Regions from separate parts of the Homo sapiens genome. Here all the other regions are linked to region 2. Evidence: fine-mapped QTL for protein levels in blood plasma. A gene starts in region 2. Each other region holds a variant in brackets. All regions are shown on one strand. Distances are between the middles of the regions.

Region 1 (8,179 bases), 42 kb after region 2:
GATTCTTGAAAGCTGAATCAAGGGGAGAAACAGCATTTCTGGAAGACAGAGCTGCATGTGCCAAAGGTCAGAAATGAGAGGGAGCCCTGTGGCTTTGGGTGCAGTAAGAACCTCCTCCTGGCTGGTGCCTGGGCTGTGATGGGATAAGTGGGGGCCATTGAGAGCCAAGTCTGGAGCCATAGATCATGCCAAGATCATGAAAGGCCTGAAGTGCCTTGCTAAGGAGTTTGGATGTATCCTGAGGAGGCACAGAAGTGACACAGGATGCTTCTCAGTCACTTTGCCAGCTGGGACCTCTGGTCAGCGATGTCCCCCTTGCCTGGGCCTCTCTGGGTCCCAGGCCTGCCGTTAGAGACACCCTACCCACTTGTCCCACCTGTGTTATAGCTTGTACCTGTGTTCAGCAGTTCTTGAGCTCTTGTCTCACATCCAAGAAGAATGAGGACATGCTGACAGTAGAAGGGTGAGGATGGGCAGAGAAGAATTTTATTGAACAATAGAACAGCTGTCAGCAGAGAGGGGATGTGGGAATTGGTCCCCCAGCCCTGCAGCTGGGTGGTTTCTCTCCTCAGTGTGGCTGGGTCTGGGGCTTTTTATGGACTCAGAATGGGGAATGCGTGTTAATTGGTTTGTGAGCATGCAAAAAAGGTTAAAGCGAAGACACCACCCAAAGGAGGGCATGAGAGTGTAGAAAACCAATTAGAAAAGGGTAGGCTTGTGTAAAATAGGTGAAGGGTGTGATCAGTCAGAGGAAGGTGTGCCAAATGGGAAGACAGGTTCTCAGTCTGGTCCAAGGATCTAACTTGTAGCTTGGCTTTTAGGCTTTGAACTGTCTTTGGCTTGGAGGTGGGATTTCACTGGGGACCACTCCTATCTGCCTAGGCATTTGGCTGCCTCCTGTCAGTATCAGAGGGATTTAAGGCATAAGGGTGACTTGGTTAGATGAGAACCACTTGATTTCCTCAGATCCTATGGCAGTGAGTGAGGAGTAAGTTCAGCTCTGAGTAACAGAGACTCGTATAAAAATGGCTTACATAAGATGGGAGTTGATTTCTCTAAAAAAGTAAAGGAAGCCCAGAGGGAAGCAGGTGAGGGAGGTGGCTCAATGATGCTCAAGGAGGTGGACCCCTTCCAATTCCCACTGGTCACCCCTAGCAGGGGAAACTGTCTTCATGATCCCAAATGGCAGCCACCACATCTACATTCTAGGGATCAGAAGGCGGGTGGGAATGAAGAAGACAAAAGGGCAAAGTGTGCATGCCTCTGGCTTTAGAGGAAGGCTCCCCAAAGCTAACCCCCAAACAACTCCATTTATATCCCATTGGCCAGAACTTACCTACATGGTACAACTATCTGCAAGGCATGCTGGGAAATAGAGTCTTTAGGGTGGTCAGAATATTGGGGCTTTCATTTCTGTGGCTTGGTGGGAAGAGAGACACTGGGGGCTAACTAGGAGGTTCTGTCACAGACCCCTCCAACTCTGCTATGAGGAAAAGATTACTGGCTCTGGTTGACAGATAAGGACACTGAGGTTCAGAAAGAGAAAATTACTCACTGGTAAGTGGTGCATCTGCAATTGCAAAGCTTGGCTTGGAATTCCACACTCATAAAAGCACTAGGCAAGCTAGTGGAGGTGACTGACTTTGCACTGTCTCCCCTCTCCAAATCTGATAATCTGATTCTAAAGGTCCCCCCATAGGTGTGCCTCAGTGAGTCGTCAAGGAAGAGCAACCCCTGCCTCCCCAATTCAAGCAATTCTCCTGCCTCAGCCTCCTGAGTAGCTGGGACTACAGGCGCATGCCACCACGCCCGGCTAATTTTTGTATTTTTAGTAGAGACGGGGTTTCACCATGTTGACCAGGCTGGTCTCAAATTCCTGACCTCAAGTGATTCACCCCGCTCAGCCTCCCAAAGTGCTGGAATTACAGGCATGAGCCACTGCACCTGGCCAAGTTTCTCATATGCTTCTGATATATAACCATATTTGGGAAGCACTGGCCTAAGTGGTTTCTGAGGAGTCTTTGACTCCGTCATGGTTATTTCCAGAAAGTGACTTCGCCTGCAAATGTGTTGTGTCTAGATTCTATCCAGCATGACTACCTTGACACTTTCTAAGCTGTGACTGGCATCAGAACTCACCAAAGTGGTCCTGTTGCAAGGTATTTACCCCCTCAAAAATAAAAAGTAATAAAAAGAAAACCTTCCACAGTGCTTGACATTTATGGTTTGGAGAGAAGAACCAACGTGCAGTAGCTGAAGGTAAAATGCACAAATTATTTTTGCAGAGGGTTGACTATTTTCCAGGAATGTGATGGATTGGAATGCCACACTCTTAAAAGCACTAGGCAAGCTAGTGGAGGTGACTGACTTTGCACTGTCTCCCCTCTCCAAATCTGATTCTAAAGGTCCCACCATAGGTGTACCTCAGTGAGTCATCAAGGAAGAGCAGCCCTTTCTTTTTTATTTTTGAGACAGAGTGTTGCTCTGTCACCCAGGCTGGAGTGAAGTGGCACCATCTCGGTTCACTGTGGCCTCCGCCTCCTGGGTTCAAGTGTTCTCGTGCCTCAGCCTCCCAAGTAGCTGGGATTACACATGCATGCCACCATGCCCAGCTAATTTTTGTATTTTTAGTAGAGACGGGGTTTCGCCATGTTGGCCAGGCTGGTTTCAAACTCCTGACCTCAAATGATCTGCCCGCCTCAGCCTCCCAAAGTGCGTGAGCCACTGCACCCTGCCTGAGCAGCTTTTTCCTGAGAGGATTCCAGGATGGTTGTTCCCACCCCTGGCCTTATAGAATCAGGAACAGATCAGGAGAAAGGGGGTCCTTAGAATTTCTGGTCCAACATCACCATTGTATAGATGAGGAGACTAAGGTCCAGAGAAGGGAAAGACTTCTGTAGATCCCACAGGGAGTGAGTGGGAAGGTCTGGATAGGGTCCAAAGTGAGAGCCCACATATAGTCCAGTCTTAGTTATGGCTCACCTGGTGCTACGTGTGGGGTTTGGACAACCTTTTCAGCTAGACTGAAGCCTCATTAAGGCCTCTGCTACGGGTTGGTGAAAGAAATTGCCCCAGTGTTGGAATAACAAAGATGCTTCCCGTTGTCTATCTGTTCACACGGATTATGGGCCATGGAATACTCCTTCCCTGGAACAGAGAGACAACGTGTGTGAGGACGAGGATAGACCCACAAAGGAGAGAGGGCACAAGGTGCTGTGGGCAAAGCCCCCAGCTGGGGACTGGACCCCAGGCTGTCTGACTCACCATGAGCCCTCTGGGCCCAATTATCCTCACGGTGAAGGGATTGCACTAGATTACAGACTAAGCCAGGTGCAAGGGAGCTGCTTACCGGGCCCCCACCCTCTGGTGGCCCCTGAGGAAGCTCCAAGGGGCCCGGTGGCTCCAGGCTTTCCTAGATCTGCCCCTGGGCTGATGCCTGGACATGTTCATGAGGAACGGGAAGGAAAGTGATCAGGAGCAGGAGCCAGAGAGTGTGGCCTCCACCCCGTCACGAAGGGTCCTTCACAGGAGGATGGTTGGGCTGGGTCTGTCCTCCCAGGCCCAACTTCTTGGGCCAGAAATACCTGTTAGAAATGAAGGTAGAAGCAGACAGATCAGGGCTCACCGGCTCAGAAATGGCTCCACTCCCAGCTGCACTCCTGTTCAGTGAATCCAGGCAGGCTGGATTCTGCTGTTAAAGGATGGGAGAATCTCCTCAAGAAGCCTCTCTCTAGGCTAAGAAGGGCTGGAGCCTGTGCAGGGGCCCCAGCCCAGGCCCAGGGGTGAGATTTGATATACTGAGGAATGGAGCATGGGCACAAAGCCTGGCTGTAATTCTGTGCTCACCCTAACCCTAACCCTTGTGATCTGGTTGGCCATGGTGAGTCATGCGGAAGTTCAGGGGGTCCCAGGCCAAGGGCCGTGAGGACAGAGTGGAGGTGGCACCTAGGGGCTCAGAGAGGGGCTGCTTACAAACTGGTAGGTGAGCATTTTGTATTAAAGTACCCGTATGGCTGTACTAGGGCTTTTCCATGGAAAACGAGTCTTATATTATCATTTATGACTGAGCCAGAGGGGTTCATCCCTGTGATGGGAAGAATATGAATTAACAGCCTTGTGACTCTGTACAGAAGAAGAGCCTGAACCCCAAGGAGGGTCAGGGTCCGTCCCAGGCCAGGCAGGGAGACTGGCAGGGCAGGGCAGGGCGGGGTGGAGTAGAACCCCAGGCTGTGCATCTGTGGCATTTGAGGTGCAATTACTGCCTGCTGGGGACAGATCAATGCCTCTAATAGACATGTTTATTTAGGGAATGAAAGGCTCTTTCA[C/A]TCTTACCGAGGAGGAGTCACGAGGCAGCTGAACAACCCTCCAGCTGACCAAGGCTGGCATCTCAGATCACATTCCACCTGTCCCATGATGGGAGGAAGAAACCGGTGCACTGAACGGGGCTGTTTATTCACCAAACAATGTTTGCAAAGCTGCTGAATCATTATCTTCTTCTTATCACTGTTCTCTCCTTCACAGAGCATGGGGCTCCCTAGTGTGCAGGCTTCAGGCCTTGCAAAACCTGGATCCTCCCTGCTTGTTTTCCTGATTGCTGCTCTTTGGAAGCCCCTGAGTTCCATTCCCAAAGCTCTCCTGAGCAACAAAGCCATTTCTTCCTCCGGCCAAAGACCACCCCTGGAGAGCACAGGAGAGGAAAAGCAATTATTTTCGAAAACTCAAAGGCCTCCTCTTCAGGAAGCCCTGGAATCCATAGTAAACAAAGTTCCCCATCTTATCTGTGAGAAACCTGAAGGAGGATTTTAAAATTCTGGTGTGCCTGTCAGAGCAGAATACGTGTAAATAGGCAATTTCCTGCAACCTTAAGGCACGCTGGGAGGCAGACACTTACCAAGGTGACATTGGCCCAGGCGCCTGTTCTGTGCTTTGAATGTGGCACTAGAATCCCTAAACCAAGCCCGAGGGATGCAGAGTTCTGATTAGATCCTGCCTTGTGTCTCCCTAAGGTGTGAAATGCTTGGTTTTAGTGCACCTGAAAAGGTCACTGAGTAAGTGATCTACTGAATCTTTCTATTCATAAGAGGGGATATAGCAGGAGGCACTGAAAGATGATCCAGGTACAGGTGGGGATACTGAGACCCAAGAGGGAAAAGGACCACTGCACATCCACAGGGAGTCAGTCGTGAGTCACAGTAATGAATTGGTGGTTTACTATGTCCTACTCACTTTACAGGGATTACCTTACTTGAGGCTCATCACACCCACGTGGGGTAACCTAACACTGATTTCTATTTTAGAGGAGGAAACAGATTTAGAGAGATAGGGGTGGTGCTTGGTGCTGGCTACATATTAGAATCATCTGGGGCCTTATATTAATAAGTACTGATTCTGGTCTGATTCTTGAAGGTCCATTAAAAACAAGATTAAAATAAAAAGTACTGGTGCCTAAGCCCCTCTCCTGAGGCCAACTTGAATTCTCAGGGTAGGCCTTAGCCATGGGTATAATTTGAGGTGCTCCAGGTGATTCTAATATGTAGCCAGCGTTGAGACGATGGGGTTGCAGAATTTGCTCAAGGTTACATGGCCAGTGAGTGGTGGATTCTACCCCGGGAGGTCTGACTCCACTAGGCCTCACCTGAGCATGCTGGAAATCAGTGCAACTCATTACCCTGCAAAAAGTATCTGCTCCCCTTAACATCATCTTCTGTGAGCCTGAAACCTCTAGTACATGCAGCTCTGGGACCACAGGTGTGCTTTCTTTCCTGCTCTAAACTCTCCTGATGGTACCAAATGGATATGATGCAGGGTATTCCTTTGCTATTGTTGCTGTAACAATTGCTACAAATTTCCAGTTCAAAACACACACGTCCAAGGAAAGGTGCAGTGGCTCACACCTGCAATCCCAGCACTTTGGGAGGTGGAGGCAGGTGGATCACTTGGGGCCAGAAGTTTGAGACCAGCCAGGCCAACATGGGGAAACCTCATCTCTACTAAAAATACAAAAATTAGCCAGGCGTGGTGGTGCACGCCTGTAGTCCCAGCTACTCAGGAGGCTGAGTCAGGAGAATTGCCTGAACCCGGGAGGCAGAGGTTGCAGTGAGCCAAGATCGAGCCACTGCACTCCAGCCTAGGCAACAGAGTGATACTCTTGACTCAAAAACAAAAACCAAAAACCAACCCCTCCCCCCCACCCCCCACACACAACCAATCTCTTGCAGTTCTAGAAGTCAGAAGTGTGAAATCAGTTTCACTGGGCCAAATTCAAGGCATCAGCAGGGCCCTGCTCCTTTCTGAGGCTCCAGGAGAGAAGACATTTCCTTGCCTTTCTCAATTTCTAAAGCTGTTTTTCTTGGATTCCTTATTTCATAGCTCCTTCCCCTCTCGTCTTGCTAGTGTTACATTGTCACCTCCTTCTTCTGTGTCAAATTTCCCCCTCCCTTTTCTCCCCACCCCCCTTCCTTCTCTCTCTCCCATCTCTTCTTCTACTTTGTGAGGACACAGCAAGAAAGGGAGAAGGCAGTCATCTGAAAACGAGGAAGACAGCCCTCACCAGAAACTGACACTGTTGGACCTGAATGTCTCCATTCAGGTTCCACATAACCATCTGTGATCTAACTGAAGGCCATTGGGCCAAAAACACGTTGGTTGATATCAGTTTGGTCTAAGTAAAATTTTTTTTTAAAGAATGTTGTAGCCAGCCTCCAAATGGTTCCCAGTGAACCCTGCCTCCTGGTATTCCCAGCTGCCTGCATTGTGGGGTTCCCTCCCACACTGTATCAGGGATGGTCTGTGTGACCAACAGCATATGGTAGATGTAGCGGTGGTGTGCCCGGAATTGGTGGGTTCTTTGCTCACTGACTTCAAGAATGAAGCCGTGGACCCTCACGGTGAGTGTTAGTTTTTAAAAGTGGCGTGTCCGGAGTTTGTTCCTTCTGACATTCGGATGTGTTCGGAGTTTCTTCCTTTTGGTGGGTTCGTGGTCTCGCTGGATCAAGAGTGAAGCTGCAGACCTTCGCAGTGAGTGTTACAGCTTTTAAGGCAGCGCCTCTGGAGTTGTTCATTCCTCCTGCTGGGTTCGTGGTCTCACTGGCTTCAGGAGTGAAGCTACAGACTTTTGCGGTGAGTGTTACAGCTCATAAAGGCAGTGTGGACCCAGAGTGAGTAACAGCAAGACGTATTGCAAAAAGCAAAAGAACAAGGAACCCACACCATGGAAGAAGACCCGAGCCAGTTGCCACTGTGGGCCCGGGCAGCCTGGTTTTATTCTCTTATCTGGCCCCACCCACATCCTGCTGATTGGTCCATTTTACAGAGAGCCGATTGGTCCATTTTACAGAAAGCTGCTTGGTCCGTTTTGACAGGGTGCTGATTGGTGCCTTTACAATCTCTGAGCTAGACACAAAAGTTCTCCACCTCCCCACTAGATTAGCTAGATACAGAGTGTCCACACGAAGGTTCTCCAAGTCCCCACCAGAGTAGCTAGATACAGAGTGTCAATTGGTGCATTCACAAACCCTGAGCTAGACACAGGGTGCTGATTGGTGTGTTTACAAACCTTGAGCTAGATACAGAGTGCCGATTGGTGTATTTACAATCCCTTAGCTAGACATAAATGTTCTCCAAGTCCCCACCAGACTCAGGAGCCCAGTTGGCTTCACCCAGTGGATCCCACTCATACTGGTGCCGCAGGTGGAGCTGCCTGCCAGTCCCAGCCGTGCGCCCGCACTCCTCAGCCCTTGGGTGGTCGATGGGACTGGGCGCTGTGGAGCAGGGGGCGTTGCTCGTCAGGGAGGCTCCGGCTGCGCAGGAGCCCATGGAGGGGTGGAGGAGGCTCACGCATGGTGGGCTGCAGGTCCACAGCCCTGCCCCGAGGGGAGGCAGCTAAGGCCAGGCGAGAAGTCGAGCGCAGCTGCTGGCCCAGGTGCTAAGCCCCTCACTGCCCGGGGCTTGCGGGCCACGGGGCCTCCGAGTGCGGGGCCCGCCGAGCCCACGCCCACCCGGAACTCCCGCTGGCCCGCAAGCGCGCAGCACGCAGCCCCGGTTCTCACCCGCGCCTCTTCCTCCACACCTCCCTGCAAGCTGAGGGAGCCGGCTCTGGCCTTGGCCAGCCCAGAAGGGGGCTCCCACGGTGCAGCGGCGGGCTGAAGGGCTCCTCAAGGGCGGCCAGAGTGGGCGCCAA
Region 2 (8,179 bases):
GCTACATCCCCTTGCATGCAATATTGAAGTGAAATCTGTCTCCCTAAAAATCCCATCTGTCATTTATGGAACTTCCCTCTAGAAATTCACCTTGCCTTCTGCTCTGTAATCGCCCACCAGAGGTCTGGAGAAAGGGCTTTCACCTTCCTTTAGCTTGGAGAAGACTATCTATGATTGCCCTGACTATTAAAGCTTGAGGTTCAAATCCATGGCCTATTTATGGAGTGGCCTTTGCTCAACTGAGCTTCTATTCTCTTCCTCTGTGCTGGAAGCTCCCCAAGGACAGAGAATATCTGCCATTTATCTCTACGTTCAAGGGAGGAATTAATGGATGGGACATTCATACCCACTTCAGCAGCTGCCGGGTGGGCACACATCTGCTCTGAATGGGGGATTGGCTAGTCTTCCCTGTGTTGTGTTTGTTTTCAGGCTGGAGGCTGAAGAGGAAGAAAATCACACCCATTCTTGTTGCCTAATTACTTACCCAGGTGCATGGGATCTCTCCACCTGCCAGACAACAGAGGCACCTCAACCCCCCTTCCCGACTGGGAGAATTTGTCCCTACTTTCTCCTATCATCTTAGGGGGCCCACAGGTGTGGCCCACAGTGTTAACTGGTACTCTGGGAACCAGAGAGATGAAAGAGCACAAATGCCTCTGCTGGGCTATGGGCTTGCAGGCAATTTTAAAAGGAAATAGACATGACTGATCACCTTCAAAGCTTGGGAATGTTTTCTCCACCCAGATACAGGGGCTTTGATGCCACAGGCTCAGTGTTGGAAAATGAGTCTTCTGATTTAATTCTCAAAGAGTCGTTATGCATACATAGTACTCTCCCTACCATTTAAAAGGAATGTAGATCATATGTAAATGCGCCTCTGTGAGATTGTGTATCCTAACCTGCATTAAGCACACATTAATTTCATTATGACACCGTTCACTTACTCCTCCTTTAATGTCTGCATAAAAAGCAGGCAAATCATTTCTGTACACATTTATTTCTCAATCATGACCATGTTTTGTCCAGTCCAGGTCTCAGGGTCGGGCACTGTACTACAGGAATGGTGGCTCAGTTTGAGGTAATCAAACGTCAACTCCCCTGACCCCTACTTCTGACCCCCTCCATGCTCCTTGCCAAGACTCATTCTTAAACTCCTTCTTTGACAAGGACCTCACTATCTCTGGAGCAGCCTGATCTCTCTTTGGACAACTATGAACCATTAGAAAGTCTGAACTTACCAGCAAAGTTGTCCCTGAAAAGCAGCATGGAGTTCGCTTATCTCTTTTGTTTGCAAATCCTGCTTTGTTCATTTAACATTATAAGTGTTTCCTTCTCATAGTGAGACCCCATCTCTGAAAAAAAAAAATTGTTTAAATTAGCCAGGCGTGGTGGTGCTCACCTATAGTCCTAGATACTCAGGAGGCTGAGTGGGGGAGGACGGCTTGAGGCTCAGGAGTTTGAGGCTGCAGTGAGCTATGATCATGACATTGCACTCCAACCTGGGCAGCAGAATGAGGTACCATCTCTTTTTTTTTTTTTTTTTAAAAAAAGGGTTTCCTTCACATCATTAAAAACAATCTTAAATTTTTGCATGTTTACACATTCACATATTTACAAATATGCCATTACATTAGATGTGCACTTTTTAACCGCTATTTTACTAAACAATGTATTATAAACATGTTTTCATTTCTATTAACCCATATTTTCTTTCTAATTGTTAATGCCTGCATAATCCTCTATTGTTAGATGTACCATAATTTATTTAACGATTGCCTCTCGGTGGGCATTTAGGTCGTTAACTTTTTTTATTTTTATTTTATTTATTTATTTATTTTTTGCTATAGTAACCAACTCCAGGATGAAATCTTCACACATAGTGATCATTTTTTTAGGAGAGATTCCTGGAAGAGCACAGAGGGGTCAAGCGGTGAGAGCACTTTAAAAGGCCACTCCTGGTAAAGACAGCAGCCTCCAGGTTGAAAGTCACTGTTGATAGGTTCTGAGAGCTGCGCTGAGTGCATTACCAACATTGTTATATTTATTCCTTACCACCACCCCTTCATGGTGCCTAACCGCCCCTGCTCTGTGTGGCTGATTGTAAGGTAAGGCCTGGCGTGGACCAGGCAGATGGCCCTCCTCTGACCACCACATAAAGTGGCCTCAGAAGAGGCTCCTTTCTGGGGATAAGAAGACTGCAAACTGGGAAGGAACTGGGCTTGAAAAGCAAAATGAACCCCACCCAAGAACGGTGTAGCTGGTCTTCCCAGGCTGCAAGAGGCTTTCTCCATCTCCAGGAGTTCAGCAAAGAAAAAACAATAGAGCACAAGACACATGAGGGGTGGCCAGTAAAGGCAGGAAAAGTCTCCTATAAAACCTGCTCAGCGAGTCCCTCCCTCCATCCAGTGCATTTACCCAGCAACACATCAAATCCCAGCAGCCAAGACTCTCTTAGGTTTCTCGTCTGGGTGCCCTGCCAGAACTCAGGCAGGATGGTGTGCACAGAGCCTGGCCCAGAGAAGGCGCAACGGCGGCATGAATAACTGACTACAAGAAACTGCATCTTTCCAACATGCATTCCCCAGTAAGCCACAGGTACACTGACCCTTGTGCACCAAGACTTCATCAAAGCATTATTCGTATTAACCAAAGGATGGAAAATAAGTGGTTAAATAACTGCAACTAAACCCTGTGGAAAGGCCACTCTGTATGAACTCCAAAATATATCACCATATCTCATCACAACAAAGTCACTGTGGACGGAGATGTACCATGACTTTATGCAGCATTAAGAAACACACTCACAGAGCCAATGAACTATGCTCCCATTGATTGTATAAGAAACCCAGTTTCACAGATGACAAGAGGTGGGGAAACTGTGAAACACTGTAAGTGCAAAAACCAAGTGCAGACTAATGTGTATGGCACGCTACTCTGTGTGTGTGAGAGAGAAACAGAGTGTGTGTGTTTTAAAGGAAGGGGCTTTTTTAGGCACATGTACTTTTATAGGCATAGAGAAAATTTCTGAAAAGATATACAAAAACCCGATAGCAAGAGTGGCCTCTGGAAGCCGAGTTGGAGGATGGGGATACAAGGTGGTAGGGTAACCCTCTTTTCATCCTTAGATGTATATGTAAAATCTACATTTTAAACCATATATTCTCTTTATAAAATAAAACTTTGAAAACTACTGAATGCAAAATAAAATTAAATAAAATAGCGCATCCTTCTGGGAGGATTTACGGGCATACTATCTGGAGCCAGCCTTGGATCCGGAGACCGTACGGTTATCCAATCCTGACTCTGCCATAGCGACCTCGGGCAAGTTGTCGCCCCGACTGGGTCTCGGTTCCCTCAAGAGTCCAATCGGAGGTCGGAGAGCTGCTCTCGGGGCGACCCTCCAGCTCGGAGACCCGGGCCGCGGGCACCGCGCGGGTCCCGGGCTGGAGCAGCGGTCTGCGGGCGCCCCGCGGTGCAGGCCCGGCCAATCAGCGGCCGCGGGGCGGGAGCGGTGACTGCTCGGCGGGCGCGGAGCGGAGCGCGAAGCAGAGGCGCCGCCGCTGTCCCGGAGCAAGCCATGCCGCGCTTGTCTCTGCTCTTGCCGCTGCTGCTTCTGCTGCTGCTGCCGCTGCTGCCGCCGCTGTCCCCGAGCCTTGGGATCCGCGACGTGGGCGGCCGGCGCCCCAAGTGTGGTCCGTGCCGGCCAGAGGGCTGCCCGGCGCCTGCGCCCTGCCCGGCGCCCGGGATCTCGGCGCTCGACGAGTGCGGCTGCTGCGCCCGCTGCCTGGGAGCCGAGGGCGCGAGCTGCGGGGGCCGCGCCGGCGGGCGCTGTGGCCCCGGCCTGGTATGCGCGAGCCAGGCCGCTGGGGCAGCGCCCGAGGGCACCGGGCTCTGCGTGTGCGCGCAGCGCGGCACCGTCTGCGGCTCCGACGGTCGCTCGTACCCCAGCGTCTGCGCGCTGCGCCTGCGCGCTCGGCACACGCCCCGCGCGCACCCCGGTCACCTGCACAAGGCGCGCGACGGCCCTTGCGAGTTCGGTGAGTCAGGGTCGGGGATTGGGTGGGTAGAGAAGGAGGGATTCCAACCCTCTGGGGTGTGGAGCGAAGGATCCCCCTGCCCAGTGGTGGACGGCGCTGCCTGGCACTCAGTTTCCCCTTAGGGAGCAGTATTTCATATCTCTCCTCGTGCTCAGAGAGACTGGGGCGAGAATCCTTGGAGACGCCACTCACTGTGCTAGTCGAATTTTTGGTGAGCCTGCTACCCCTTTTGGTACTTAAGTACCTGCTGATGCAGTCACTTATTTGTAGGCATGGTATGTTTGCCCAGCAGGAGACTGGGAGTTAAGGAGGGGGATCCGAGTTCCCAGGTATCCAGCGCTAGGTGGATTGTTTGAATGGGGAGGAAGGGAAGTTGAGGTTGGGGGAGGAAGGGAAGTAGAGGATAGGGGAGGAAGGGAAGTTGAGGATGCAGGAGGAGGATGAGTTCCAGACTGGGGAATCAGTAGTCACCAGGCCACAGCACCAGAGCACCAGGGCCCCCGGTGTGGGAAGGGGCTGAGCTGGGATGCTGAGGGAGCTCCATCCAGGAGAAGTAAGACCTTTGGAGACGTAAGGTCTGAAAAGATTGTGGTGCTATTAGGGGCAGACTCAGGTTTCGTGCTTCTAAAACATATATAATTTGGAGAGTCCTGCCTTAAGTAAAGGAATAGAACTGCTAGGGACTTAGAAACTTATTATGAAATGCTAGGGACTTAGAAACTTAAGCTTCATTAACATCACAGTAAAATAATCTCTGAGTGCTATAGTTGCCCACCCTCTTTATGTACCTTTTGAAAACCAAACAAAAAGAAACCAAAACGTTAGCACTGCTTTACCGGCTTCCTAAGCATGAGTGTATTCCACCCACTAGGTTTTGAAGTGCCGCTGTGTACTTTGCCTGGAGTGGGCAGTGCTGAGTTTAGGGTGAGTGAGAAGGTGGCCAGTGAGTCCCAAGGAGCCTGGGTTTCGGCCTGGAGTTCAGGCTTCTGGGAAATAATTCTGGCCTGAGCCCAGAGACCAAGTCCAGACTTTAGTGCCTAAGTCAGTGTAATGACTTAGCTTCAAGAAAGAAGCCTGGGGTGGGGTGAGACCTTTCCAAGCCTTAAGAAGTATCTAGTAGTCTTTCCTCTCAAGTAGTTCAGGTAGATGTACCCAAGTCCAGGAGACGCAATGGGTTGTTGGAGATGGGGCAGGAAGCCTCCAGTCCTGGGAAATGTAAAACCAGTGTGTGGCCAGTTGAGCACAGGAAAGTCACCATTGGCTGTTCCTAGCTGAAGCTCCCCATGGAGGACAGAGCTGGCTGGGGGTGCATCTGTGCTGCCGCTGGCTCCCTGAGTGGCCCTGGACGGGTCCCTTCCCCTCTCTGGCCATATCAGCCCCAGTGGAGTCATTGTTGAGGTCCCTTTCACTCGGAACAGTTGGTTTCCGCCCTGTGGCACTTAAACAGTCCTGTCTCTTTCCTTTTGCTAGTTCCTATCACTCGTTTTTATAACTGCTTTCCTCAGCCGTTAATTCACAGGCAATTCTCTTTGTCTCCAGACAGGTAACACTTTTAACTCCACATGCAGGAGACAGAAGAAATGCTGACCAGGTCCTCAGACTATAAATGCTGCTGATGATCTCAGATAATTTCTCCCCAGAGTGGCATTCTCTTCCTAAGAGAAAGGCACCTTAAAGACATTCAGACCAAATCTGCTGTTATACAGAGAAAGAGACTGAGACACAGCAAGGTCAGAGCCCTTGTCCAGGGTGACCAGTAAAGGATGACCAGCTCCCTGGTCCCAACACCCTGTCCAGTGCTCTTTTGGCACAGGACTTAATAGTATTAAGTCAGGCAGATGGTGGTTACCATGGTTACCAGAGTGAGGCCAGATGGCAGATGGAAACTCCATACCCCTAATTCACTGAAAATTACCAAATGACAAGTAAATGTGACAGCCCCTTCACTCTGATCTATGGGATCTGAGGCCCACCCCAGGCACAGACCCAGGGAATAAAGATATTCGTGGGGCCACATGGAAGCAACTCAGAACTGGTTTTCATGATCTCATTACTGACAGGCGTCAGGCCTCCCCGGGGTTCAGCCCTTCTTCCGCACCAGCCTTTGTGTCATCCACCACAGAACCGGGCACTGTTTGCCTGTCACTCTCTGTCCTGAAGTGCTAGTGTGGCCTCTGCCCTTGTGTCCAGATAAAGCATGAAGGTTTGGACAGGGGATGTTTCCTAGCCCAGGCAGCAGCTCATTCTGTGCTGCCCTAAAGCCATCTTTTATTCACAAGACACAGCGGGAGCGTTTTTTAACAATGCCTCTGGGGATCCCGGTTGAAGGAAAACAGACTGTGAGTCAGAGCAGGGCTGTTCTGCTTCAATATTCATGATAAAATCACCCCTCCTGACTCCTTGGGTACCCAAGCACCTAGATTTCATGGAATGAGGCCTCGGGAAGTATTTATTATGTTGTTCACAGTGTGTGAAGGGCCCTTATACATGCCTCTGAGGAGCCTGGGGAAGCAGTTTTCAGGCTTAAATTCTGCCCTTTCCTCCTATGCCCTGAAATGCCCCAAACTGCCACATAATGAGAGTGATCCTTTGATCCGCACACATGTATGGAAGACTCACATATGAATAATTCTTACTGTTGGAAATTGCTTTTGCATCCTTTTTTTTTTTTTTTTTTTTTGAGACAGGGTCTCACTGTATCTCCCAGGTGGAATACAATGGCTTGATCACAGCCCACTGTGATCCTGGGCTCAAGGAATCCTCCTGCCTCAGCCTCCCAAGTAGCTGGGACTATAGGCACATACCATCATGCCCAGCTGATTTTTAGAATTTTTTGTAGAGACAGGATCTTACTGTGTTTCCCAGGCTGTTCTTGAACTCCTGGCCTCAAGCACTCCTCCCACCTCAGCCTCCCAAAGTGCTGAAATTACAGACATGAGATACCATCCCTGGGCTGCACCCATCTTTTTACATGATTTTTACAAGTGTCCTGGGGAGGTCTCCTTCCCATTTGATAGAAGGGAAAGCTGAGGCACATGGAAGGAAATTCCCTGGAGCCACCTGGCTGGTCCCAGCTGTGAAAGGGCTCCAGTGTAGGTTTGCCTGGCTGTTTTGTTTTGTTTTGTTTTGAGACAGAGTCTCACTCTGTCACCCAGGCTGGAGTGCAGTGGTGTGATCTTGGCTCACTGCAAGCTCCACCTCCTGGGTTCACGCCATTCTCCTGCCTCAGCCTCCAGAGTAGCTGGGACTACAGGCGCCCACCACCACGCCTGGCTAATTTTGTTTTTTGTACTTTTAGTAGAGACGGGGTTTCACTGTGTTAGTCAGGATGGTCTTGATCTCCTACCTCATGATCTGCCCGCCTCGGCCTCCCAAAGTGCTGGGATTACAGGCGTGCGCCACCATGCCTGGCCTGCCTCGCTATTTTCAGATGGGCGCTGCACAGCTAGCCGCTAGCAACCTGATCAGTAAGGTGCTGTGCACCCGCCAGCCTTGAATCTTGGGGGTTTCTCAATCTGGGTCCACCTTCCTGTTTTTCCCAAGGTTTGTCACTTGTCCCTCTATTTAGCACTGGGCTATAGCTCCTGAGAGAAGCCTTGAAGGATGGGGAGAGAATCCCAATGCTAGCAAGGGGGAGGCACAGCATGAACTGAGGCTCAGAGGTGGGAGCCCTTTGGTGGGTGTGCAAGTGGGCCCATAGGGCCGAGGCCTGGTAGGATGGTTGGGAAAGGAGATGACACCCCAGAGTAGTTTGGGGTAGGCCACTGCAAGCCTTGGGTGCAAGGCCGAAGGGGGAAGCTTCATTCTGCACTTTGGGAGGCTGAGGTGGAAGGATTGCTTGAGGCCAGGAGTTCAAGGATAGCCTGGGCAACGCAGCAAGATCCCATCTCTACAAAAAATTCTAAAAACTAGCTGGACATGATGGCATGTGCCTGTAGTCCCAGCTACTTGGGAGGCTGAGGCAGGAGGATTTCTTGAGCCCAGGAGTTCGAGGCTACAGTGAGCTATGATCATGCCACTGTACTCCGCCTAGGAGACAGAGTGAGACCCTGTCTAAAAAGAAGAAGAAGAAGGAGGAGGAGGAGGAGGAGGAGGAGGAGGGGGAGGAGGAGAAGGAAGAAGAAGGATGCAAAAGCAATTTC
Region 3 (8,179 bases), 14 kb after region 2:
GGCGTTGAAATTCTGAATCTTTCTGTGGGATGGTGGTGATGTTCGGGTCTTTGCTGTCTGGCAGAGCGTGCTGTCTATATGTACAAGTAGGTTTAAAAAATGACTGATGTCATTTGCATAGGCATGAGCAGTGCTAGGGTTTCCGTTTTTGAGTCAGTGGGAGGAGGAGGAAGGAGGAGGGCAAGGAAGCCTATGGGATGGTCTTTATCCAGAATTGCTTTTTCTAAGCCCCCTCCTGGCATTCCTGTCCCCTGTAGGTCACGAAGTCCCCTGAGGGCACCCAAGCACTGGAGGAGCTGCCTGGGGACCATGTCAATATAGCTGTCCAAGTGCGAGGGGGCCCTTCTGACCATGAGGCCACGGCCTGGATTTTGGTGAGTGTTTAGGATTATTGGATATTATTGACTGACCATTATAAACCATCCTTTATATTTCTACAACACATTACATGTTTCAAAGCTGTTCTTACCCATTTCTCACTGGCCCCTCCAGTAACTGTGAGGCAGGCAGGGCAGGTTTCAGATCTGCTGGGAACATACGTGTTCTGCTGCCAGGGGCAGAGTGATGGCCCCACAGTGATGTCCACCACGTCCTCACCCCCAGAACCGTACGATGTTACATGGCAAGGTGGTGGGAGGGAGGTTGTGGTTGCTAAACAGCTGAGATAAGGAGATTTAAGATAAGGAGATTAGCCTGGATTATCCGGGTGGGCCAATTTAAAGGTGGGTCTTTAAGTGTGGAAGAGGGAAACAGAAGAGTCAGAGGCAGACTGAAGTGATTCGATGTGAGGAGGACTTGACCCACCATTTCTGGCTTTGATGATGTTGGAAAGGGCCACAGCCAAGGAGTGCCAGCATCCACTAGGAACTGGAGAAGGCAAGAAAATGAGTCTCCTGAGAGCCTTCAGAAAGAATGCAGCCCTGCCGGCACCTTGATCTTAGCCCCCTTTGGGCCTCTGACCTCCAAAACTGTAGAAAAGAAATGTGTTTGTTTTAAGGCACTCAGCTTGTGGCGATTTGTTACAGCAGCCCAAGGAACTAGTACACCTGCCTAAGGTCACCCGCTGGTAAAGGTAGAAGGTGGCACATTCGAGTCCTCCTCCAGAGCTCTTTCCTGCCACTCGCAGCACTTTTACCAAGATGAAGAATGCCACATGTTTGAAAGAGTGATGGAATGAGGAGATAGGGGTCCATGTTGGGTCGTCACTGTACCCTTCTGAGCCTCCATTTCCACTGTTGTTGAAAGAGGGCTTCAAACTGAAAGACCTCTGAGGGCCTTTGTGGCCCTGGCAGTCTGTGATTTACCTGTGAGTCTCCTGTAAAAAGAAGACCATAATGCTCACCCTTCCCCCACGACTGGCATGAGTTTAAAACGAGCTGATGTGCGTACACCAGCGCGTGGTCGGTAGGATGATTTGTAATTGATGGAAGCGGTTGGTTGTAACGAGAAAGCAAAAAAGACGCGAGCTGGTTATGGACCTGGCTGTGAACATCCTTGGGGTGCTCCCTAAGGACAACCTCCTCATTCCACCCACAGCTCTGGGAGGCTTGGTGACTCTTCTCCACCCAGCTGAGAGATTGGGAATGCAATTGGCTGTGCGGTTTTTTCAAATCAAGCACATTCCTCTATTTTCTTAGGAGAAAAGACAGGGAAAAGAGGTTATCTCTGGTGGTATTTTGTAGAGGCTGCCCCTATAGGGAATACTTTCTGGATCATTCTTTGGTCAGTAGATTTTTGTTCTTCTTTTAACTTGAGGTGTTTTCCAAATAACCTATACCTTGCACCTTTAATACAAAAGACCAGGTAGCTCACAGTAAAAGGCAGGTGTGCGGAGGAATCATTCAGATGAGAGCCACAATAGGGAGCGTGCCTTTCAAGAGGGTCCCTGGGAAGGAAATTTACCTGCGTGCTCCTTGGCAGCCAATGCAAGGAGAGAAATAGAGCAAGTTTTACCTTATTCTGAAAAGGAGGAAGTGTGCAGACTTATCATTAAGAACTAACTAAGGAAGTCATTTTGCTGTTCCTTATATAACTGTATAAACTTGCCTGTTGTATTTCTAGATCAACCCCCTGCGAAAGGAGGATGAGGGTGTGTACCAGTGCCATGCAGCCAACATGGTGGGAGAGGCTGAGTCCCACAGCACAGTGACGGTTCTAGATCTGAGTAAATACAGGAGCTTCCACTTCCCAGCTCCCGATGACCGCATGTGATGGAGAAATGTACATGTTCTAAGTCATTTTCAGTATTTTACACCCATGTTATGAGATATTTGAGGTGGCTTATAAGACCTGTAAAAAAAAGAAGAAAAATACGTAAATGGAGGAAACCAGGGAAAGAGCAAAAGAAGAGTAGGGACATACTTAGATGAGCAGTAGAATCCCTGGTATATTCTGCACACATCTCCCTCTGAGCTTCTTAGCATGCAAAGACAAGAGCTGTGAACATGATGTGTGTCCATGAGATGAAAAGACCAGTTGTGTTTTGGGGCTGGAGGGAATATTTCCTCTGTATTCTTCTAGAAAGAGCACTGAGAGAGGTAGCAGACAGTGTCATTGTGACAGCGTCCATGTGAAAATGTTCCCACAAAGAAGATGCCTGAGCTTCCTTTGTGTGTTCCTGGAGCTCTTCCTTGTTCAGGACACCTGAGCTTCCTTCCTGGGGCTCAGGCCTTGCCTTCCTGTCCTCAGCACTGTGTGCTGCTTTGCAACACATCTCCTTGTGGGTAGGGGCAGAGAGAATCTCTGCATCCCCTCTGGTCAAGGCCTCCTAGTCTGTAGTCACACAGGTGACAGCTGGGGTTGCATCTGTTCCTTGCCTACAGGTGAACTGGGAATTCGGGAAAGGGATCACTTTATAAGCCAGCTTTTGCTCATAAAAATCCCAAAATCTTGCTGGTTCACAGCCACAGACGTTGATCACTTGCTCATGTTCCATGTTATAGCTGTGAGCTGGCTGTGGCCCTGCCCCATGTGTCCCCTCATTCAGGACCCAGCTGGAGGAACAGCTCCAGTGTGGAACATGTCCGTTCTGTGGCCAGGCTGCACACACCATTGCATTTAAAGTTTCTGCTCGGATGTGATGTGTGCCCCGCCCATTTACAGACCAATCATTTTTTTTTTTTTTTTTTGAGACAGAGTCTCACTCTGTCACCCAGGCTGGAGTGCAGTGGTGCGATCTCGGCTCACTGCAAGCTCTGCCTCCTGGGTTCACGCCACTCTCCTGCCTCAGCCTCCCGAGTAGCTGGGACTACAGGCACCCGCCACCACACCTGGCTAATTTTTTTGTATTTTTAGTAGAGACGGGGTTTCACCGTGTTAGCCAGGATGGTCTTGATCTCCCGACTTCATGATCCGCCCGCCTTGGCATCCCAAAGTACTGGGATTACAGGCGTGAGCCACCGTGCCTGGCCTGCACGATCCTCTTACAGGAATGGGGGAGCAGTGGTGAACAGGCACCATTACCAAGGCTGATCAACAGGTGCTTAATAGAACAGGAAAAATTAGAAACAAGTCTGATAGGGTTTCTCAAAAGCAGGGGGATTTTGCCATGGTTTTAGTTATATTATTCTTTCAGCCACTACTGTTGCACACCTTCTGTGTGCAAGGCCTTACTTCTGGTCTGTAGGGGATCACAGAAAAACAAAAAGTGGACATAATTATAATACAAGGAGTGCGATGTAAGGGAATGGGAGGAGATATTAAGGCATGAAAAGCAGCTTAGAACTGGGGAAAATGAAGGAAGAATCATCGAGGAGGTGGCATGAGGATTGAAGGATGGGTGTACGTGAGTAGTTAGAGGCCCTAGAAATGGGGAGAAAAATATGAAAATGTAAAACTGTGAAATAGGAATTCAACAAAGAGTTAGGAGATTGGGTCTTAAAATTGTCTTCCTGATGATATGTGACTTGTTTTATATAGATATGTTTCCAGTTTTAAATATATATATCTATAATTTTCAAATACACGTATATTTTGAGGCAGAAATGATTCTGGGTTGTGAATACATCAAAAGGATACCATGAAAAATTGTGGAATTTTAAGAGCATCACTGCTGCCTAGGTCTTGAGTTCCTTCTGTGACACACAGTATTGCCAGCTCTGGCTTACATACCTCCAGGGATACAGAGCTCACTACCACTGAGAGCCATCTGTGGATTTTCCAATGGTTGAAAAGATCTTATTAAGCTGGAGTCTGCTGCTTTGAAACGTCCACCTTTTGGTCTTAAAAGTACTTCTTGGGACTCCACAGGGCCCTTCACTCTCCACTGGCACCATTTCCTGCTGGGGAGAGATTCGAAGTGAAGGATCATTTCCCCCACCTTCCATGTAACACATAGTTGATTGTAACGGAGCAGGCTTACGTTCTCTAATTCTTTCTCTCCTTTTCTTCCTAGGGTCTTAGAAACATTGATCATGGGATGATGGAAAAGTCAAATAACGGATCTTTGTGCTTCATGAAGAGTTGGAAAACCTGTGTGTGTAGATGACCCCTTTTGTGTGTTTTTAAAAATTAGATGCAAACTAGAT[C/T]TGTATGCAGATGTAGTTTTTAGCAGGGCAAACAGTGAGAAACGGATTTGCATGTGGCTTTTTTATACTTTTGAAATGAATTGTTCCATGAGAAGTCTTTTTGTAATTATTCTCTTCCAGGGAGATCACAGAACGGCATGTTTGCAATTTCGAAAGGGCTCGTGTCAGCTGTGACTCTTTACCTCATTTGTCTATGACCTATTAGTGGTGCTCTGTGACTTAGTGTGTGTTGTAGAAGGAGGGATGAGGGTCCCAGCTGTCCTCTGCCTGACTGTAACTTGCTGTGTGACCTGAACAGATCCCTTCCCCTCTCTGGGCCCTGGTCCCTTCATCTGTGAGTATGGCATTTTAACTGGATGTTATCAATGTCCCTTTTAGCCCTGCCATCCTAGATTAAGATGGCCTTTTGGGAAAATAACAGGAAGTGTGGTCTTAGTGTTCTTTCTAAAATGGTATTCCCTCAGAAACAAATTCCATTGCTTTACCCCAACGTGTGGACAGCTGGCTGTAGCTCTTCTATTCCTAACTTTTTCCCTTTGAAGGAGATTTAGTTTTAGGTGGGATGCTTTACCAGACTCAGGAGCGCCTTGGCTGGGTCTTTGGAGACCAGAGCATCCATTTGTTAGCCTAGCATTCTCTTTTTTAAAATTTTATTTTGAGACAGGGTCTCGCTCTATCACCCAGGCTGGAGTGCAGTGGCGTGATCATGGCTCACTGCAACCTCCACTTTCTGGGCTCGAGTGATCGTTCCACCTCAGCCTCCTGAGTAGCTGGGACCACAGGCATGCCCCACCACACCCAGCTATTTTTTTTTTTTTTTTTTTTTTTTTTGTAGAGACAGGGTCTCCCTATGTTGCCGCCCAGGCTGGTCTCAAATTCCTATGCTCAAATGATCCTCCTGCCTTGGCCTCCCAAAGTGCTGGGATTATAGGCATCAGCCACTGTGCTTGGCCTAGCCTAGCATTCTCTAAACAGGTGGTTAGAAGCGGTGGATACCAGGCTTCTGACGATCAAATTGTAAAAAAAGGGGTCAGGTGTTATCTCCAGACTGTGGAATTAGATTGTAGTAGAATATATTTTACCTACAAACATTTTGACCTCACCCAAGAGTAAGGCTCTCTTTTTTTTCTTTTTTAATGAAAAAAGAAAGGAGAATATTTGCTATCTTATCTTAAAAAAATAGATCCTTAGGTGATTACAATTTTAAAATAAGAATTGAGAGCCCTTACTATGCACAGTCCTTTAAGTTCATAAAGCTTGATCCCAACTCTGGGAGATGGGGCAGGACAGGTGTTAATGTCCCTGCCTTTAGCAGATGAAGAAACCAGGCTCTGAGAGGAGAAGCTACTTGCCCAAGGCCTGAAGGCCTCTGAAAGAGGAGCAGAGCTCAGGGCACCTGGCCCTCCTTGGTCCCCTCTCTACTCCACGGTGCTGCTACTCAGGGTCATCTCAAAACTATGTAAAGGCAGATGTTGCCAATCCACAGGCTTCAGGGACTCTTATCAAGACTCATCCCAACTTTTAAGGCACACTTTCACACCGCTCACATTGTGCATTACATTTTGGAGTCCTTGTTGGAAGTGAACTTTCCGCCTGTAAGCCTGCCATTCCATGTCTAATATATTGGGATGGCATCACCTTCTGTACTATGCAGCAGAAGGAGACTGGCCTGGGATTCTGGAAACATGAGATCCATTTGCATATTAATCCCCGGCTCGCTGTGTGACCCTGAGCAAGTCTCCTTCACTTTCTGTGCCTCAGTGTCCTTATTTGAGTAAAAAGGGAATAAAACTAGATGAGTGGTTTTCAAACTTTAAAACACTGGAAGCTCTCTTTGAAAACAAAAGATGAGAATTGAAATGGATGGCACTGGAAGCTGTTCTTGTCTACTGGGGTTTGGAGCTGCCAGGGGACCTGCTCACATCCACTCCTCACTCAGCCCCTCCCGCCCCTCCCTTCTCCACGCACTGTGACTGACTTCCATGTGTGAAGGCCTGCAGTTAATTCTCCTGTGTCTTGAATGGTTGGGAGATGAGTTGGTCAGACCCTTAGTGAAATGATGTGGGAAGGAACAGGAATGCTGTGGCTCTGAAGAAGGTAGTAGAACATCCCACACCTGCTAATAAGCACATTTTGCAAACTCAGTTGACTCACCTCAGATTTGCCTAGTGAAAACTGAAGGGCTGGATGTAGACCCAGAGAGCAGGGTGGACAGAGCCCATGCTGGAAGTACTGAGCATCAGGACTGTATGGGGCTGGCTTTAGCATCATCATTCTGTGCAAAGACAAATAATTAATGTCACACTGTCTGAAATTTTCACCAAAACCAAAAAGGCGCATTAACATGATTGTTCCAACCTCATGGTTTTTCAAGTGTGAGCGCCCAGAGACCTCTTCAGAGGCTAAGAGAGCATGCGCTGCCACAGCTGTTAGCATTTGGAGACGTAATTACAATGCCCCCACTCCCCGCACCAAACCTGGGTTTTTCTACCGTTTTTGTAGATGTCATGATGTCACGACCCCTGCACCCTGAAAAAAATAAATGTTTTTAAGGACAGTCTTTGTGGTGTCTTTGTTGTAGGAATGCTGTATAGGTGGGTGCAGGTCCCACTGGTATTCCTTTATCATCCCTCATGCCTCCTGTCCTTCCTTCTGCATGCCCACTTCAGCTACTTAGTCTAGATCCTCCTTACCTCCCACGCCTGGTTGCGATCGCAGCCCCACCGTTCACCTTGCCCGAAATTTTTAACCAGCCCTAATCATCTTACACTACTGCCCTTGACTATGTGTGTCCTGCCGTGTACGCATTCTAGTACTTAATTCACTTGCTGAGATAGTGCTCTGTCCCCTCCCACACACACAGTAGCATTCTCCAGGTGCCAGACAGGTACAAGATGCCGAAAGTCATATGTTTGGAATCATCTGGATTCCTCCCATATGAAAGTAGGTAGAATCAGGTCCTGAACTCAGACTCCAGTGGAGACATGGGTGGGATGAGGTCACCATCCCTGGCAGCATATGGTGTCTGCTTTGTGGTTAGAGCAGAGGGAGATCAAGGAAGACTTCCCAGAAGAGGAGGCAGGCATTTGAACTGGCAGGAGTGGGTGTGGGGGATTCCAGGCTAAGGAAACAGCATGCAAAAAGGAGTCGGGGTAGAAAAATGCAGTGTAGTTTGTGAACAGGGAGGAATGGCCAGTTGCTGCTGCTCAGAGCTATGGTGGTGGGCGGGTAGTAGTTTGGGGCAACACCCCTCAATGCAGACAGAGGAGGTTGAACTTGTTGCCGTAAGCAGTGGACAGACTGAATCTCTGTCTCTGTTGTCAGCTGGGCTTGAGGAAGACAATTCCACAGCCCATGTTCAATCCCAAATGTATCTGCTTTCCCCCTTAAACACAAATAAGGCTAGTTTTTAGTTAAGGTGGATTTTTTTTTCTTTCAGGTTTTATGGTGAAATTAATTCCAACATCTTTAAAAACACTGTCCTGCCCTCTCCTCCAGGGACGGATGGTGCAGGAGAAATGAATAAGAACGGCAGATCCAGCGACAGTAAAAGTCTCCGCTAATGAATTTCCTCCTTCCCAGCCTTTACGAGGGCTTCTTGAACATTACATCAGACAATGATTATTCCATGATATTTTAATTAATTAAGGGAA

Which allele goes with the higher level. Alleles are on the strand shown, and positions count from the first base shown. The strength of an association depends on the size of the effect and on how common the allele is.
For the plasma level of the protein whose gene starts at base 3,548 in region 2, allele A in region 1 goes with a lower level than allele C (strong association).
With allele T in place of C in region 3, the plasma level of the protein whose gene starts at base 3,548 in region 2 is higher (strong association).

What was found. PIP is the chance, under the fine-mapping model, that this variant and not a neighbour inherited with it causes the effect. Protein levels are from antibody-based Olink assays in UK Biobank. Linkage for the fine-mapping came from a reference panel and not from the study's own genotypes, which makes the PIPs less certain.
Region 1: its variant is fine-mapped to the plasma level of the IGFBPL1 protein (UK Biobank, PIP above 0.99).
Region 3: its variant is fine-mapped to the plasma level of the IGFBPL1 protein (UK Biobank, PIP above 0.99).

Annotation. Positions count from the first base shown.
Region 1 is chr9:38,377,458-38,385,636 of GRCh38, reverse strand. It overlaps LOC107987065 (a long non-coding RNA gene), which reads right to left. Exons shown (of 3, transcript XR_001746670.2): 3 at 4,432-4,677. Among named protein-coding and RNA genes, the nearest start is that of ALDH1B1, 11 kb to the left of the region's middle. RefSeq lists an enhancer at 3,886-4,834. The variant C/A (reference allele first, on the strand shown) is at 4,326.
Region 2 is chr9:38,419,823-38,428,001 of GRCh38, reverse strand. IGFBPL1 (insulin like growth factor binding protein like 1) reads left to right here and starts at 3,548. Exons shown (of 5, transcript NM_001007563.3): 1 at 3,548-4,037. The coding sequence starts at 3,578. It overlaps LOC105376041 (a long non-coding RNA gene), which reads right to left and starts at 3,391. Exons shown (of 8, transcript XR_007061487.1): 1 at 3,252-3,391; 2 at 1,239-1,352. RefSeq lists an enhancer at 1-2,503.
Region 3 is chr9:38,405,432-38,413,610 of GRCh38, reverse strand. It overlaps IGFBPL1 (insulin like growth factor binding protein like 1), which reads left to right. Exons shown (of 5, transcript NM_001007563.3): 3 at 258-374; 4 at 2,062-2,220; 5 at 4,394-7,083. The coding sequence ends at 2,211. Among named protein-coding and RNA genes, the nearest start is that of IGFBPL1, 15 kb to the left of the region's middle. The variant C/T (reference allele first, on the strand shown) is at 4,527.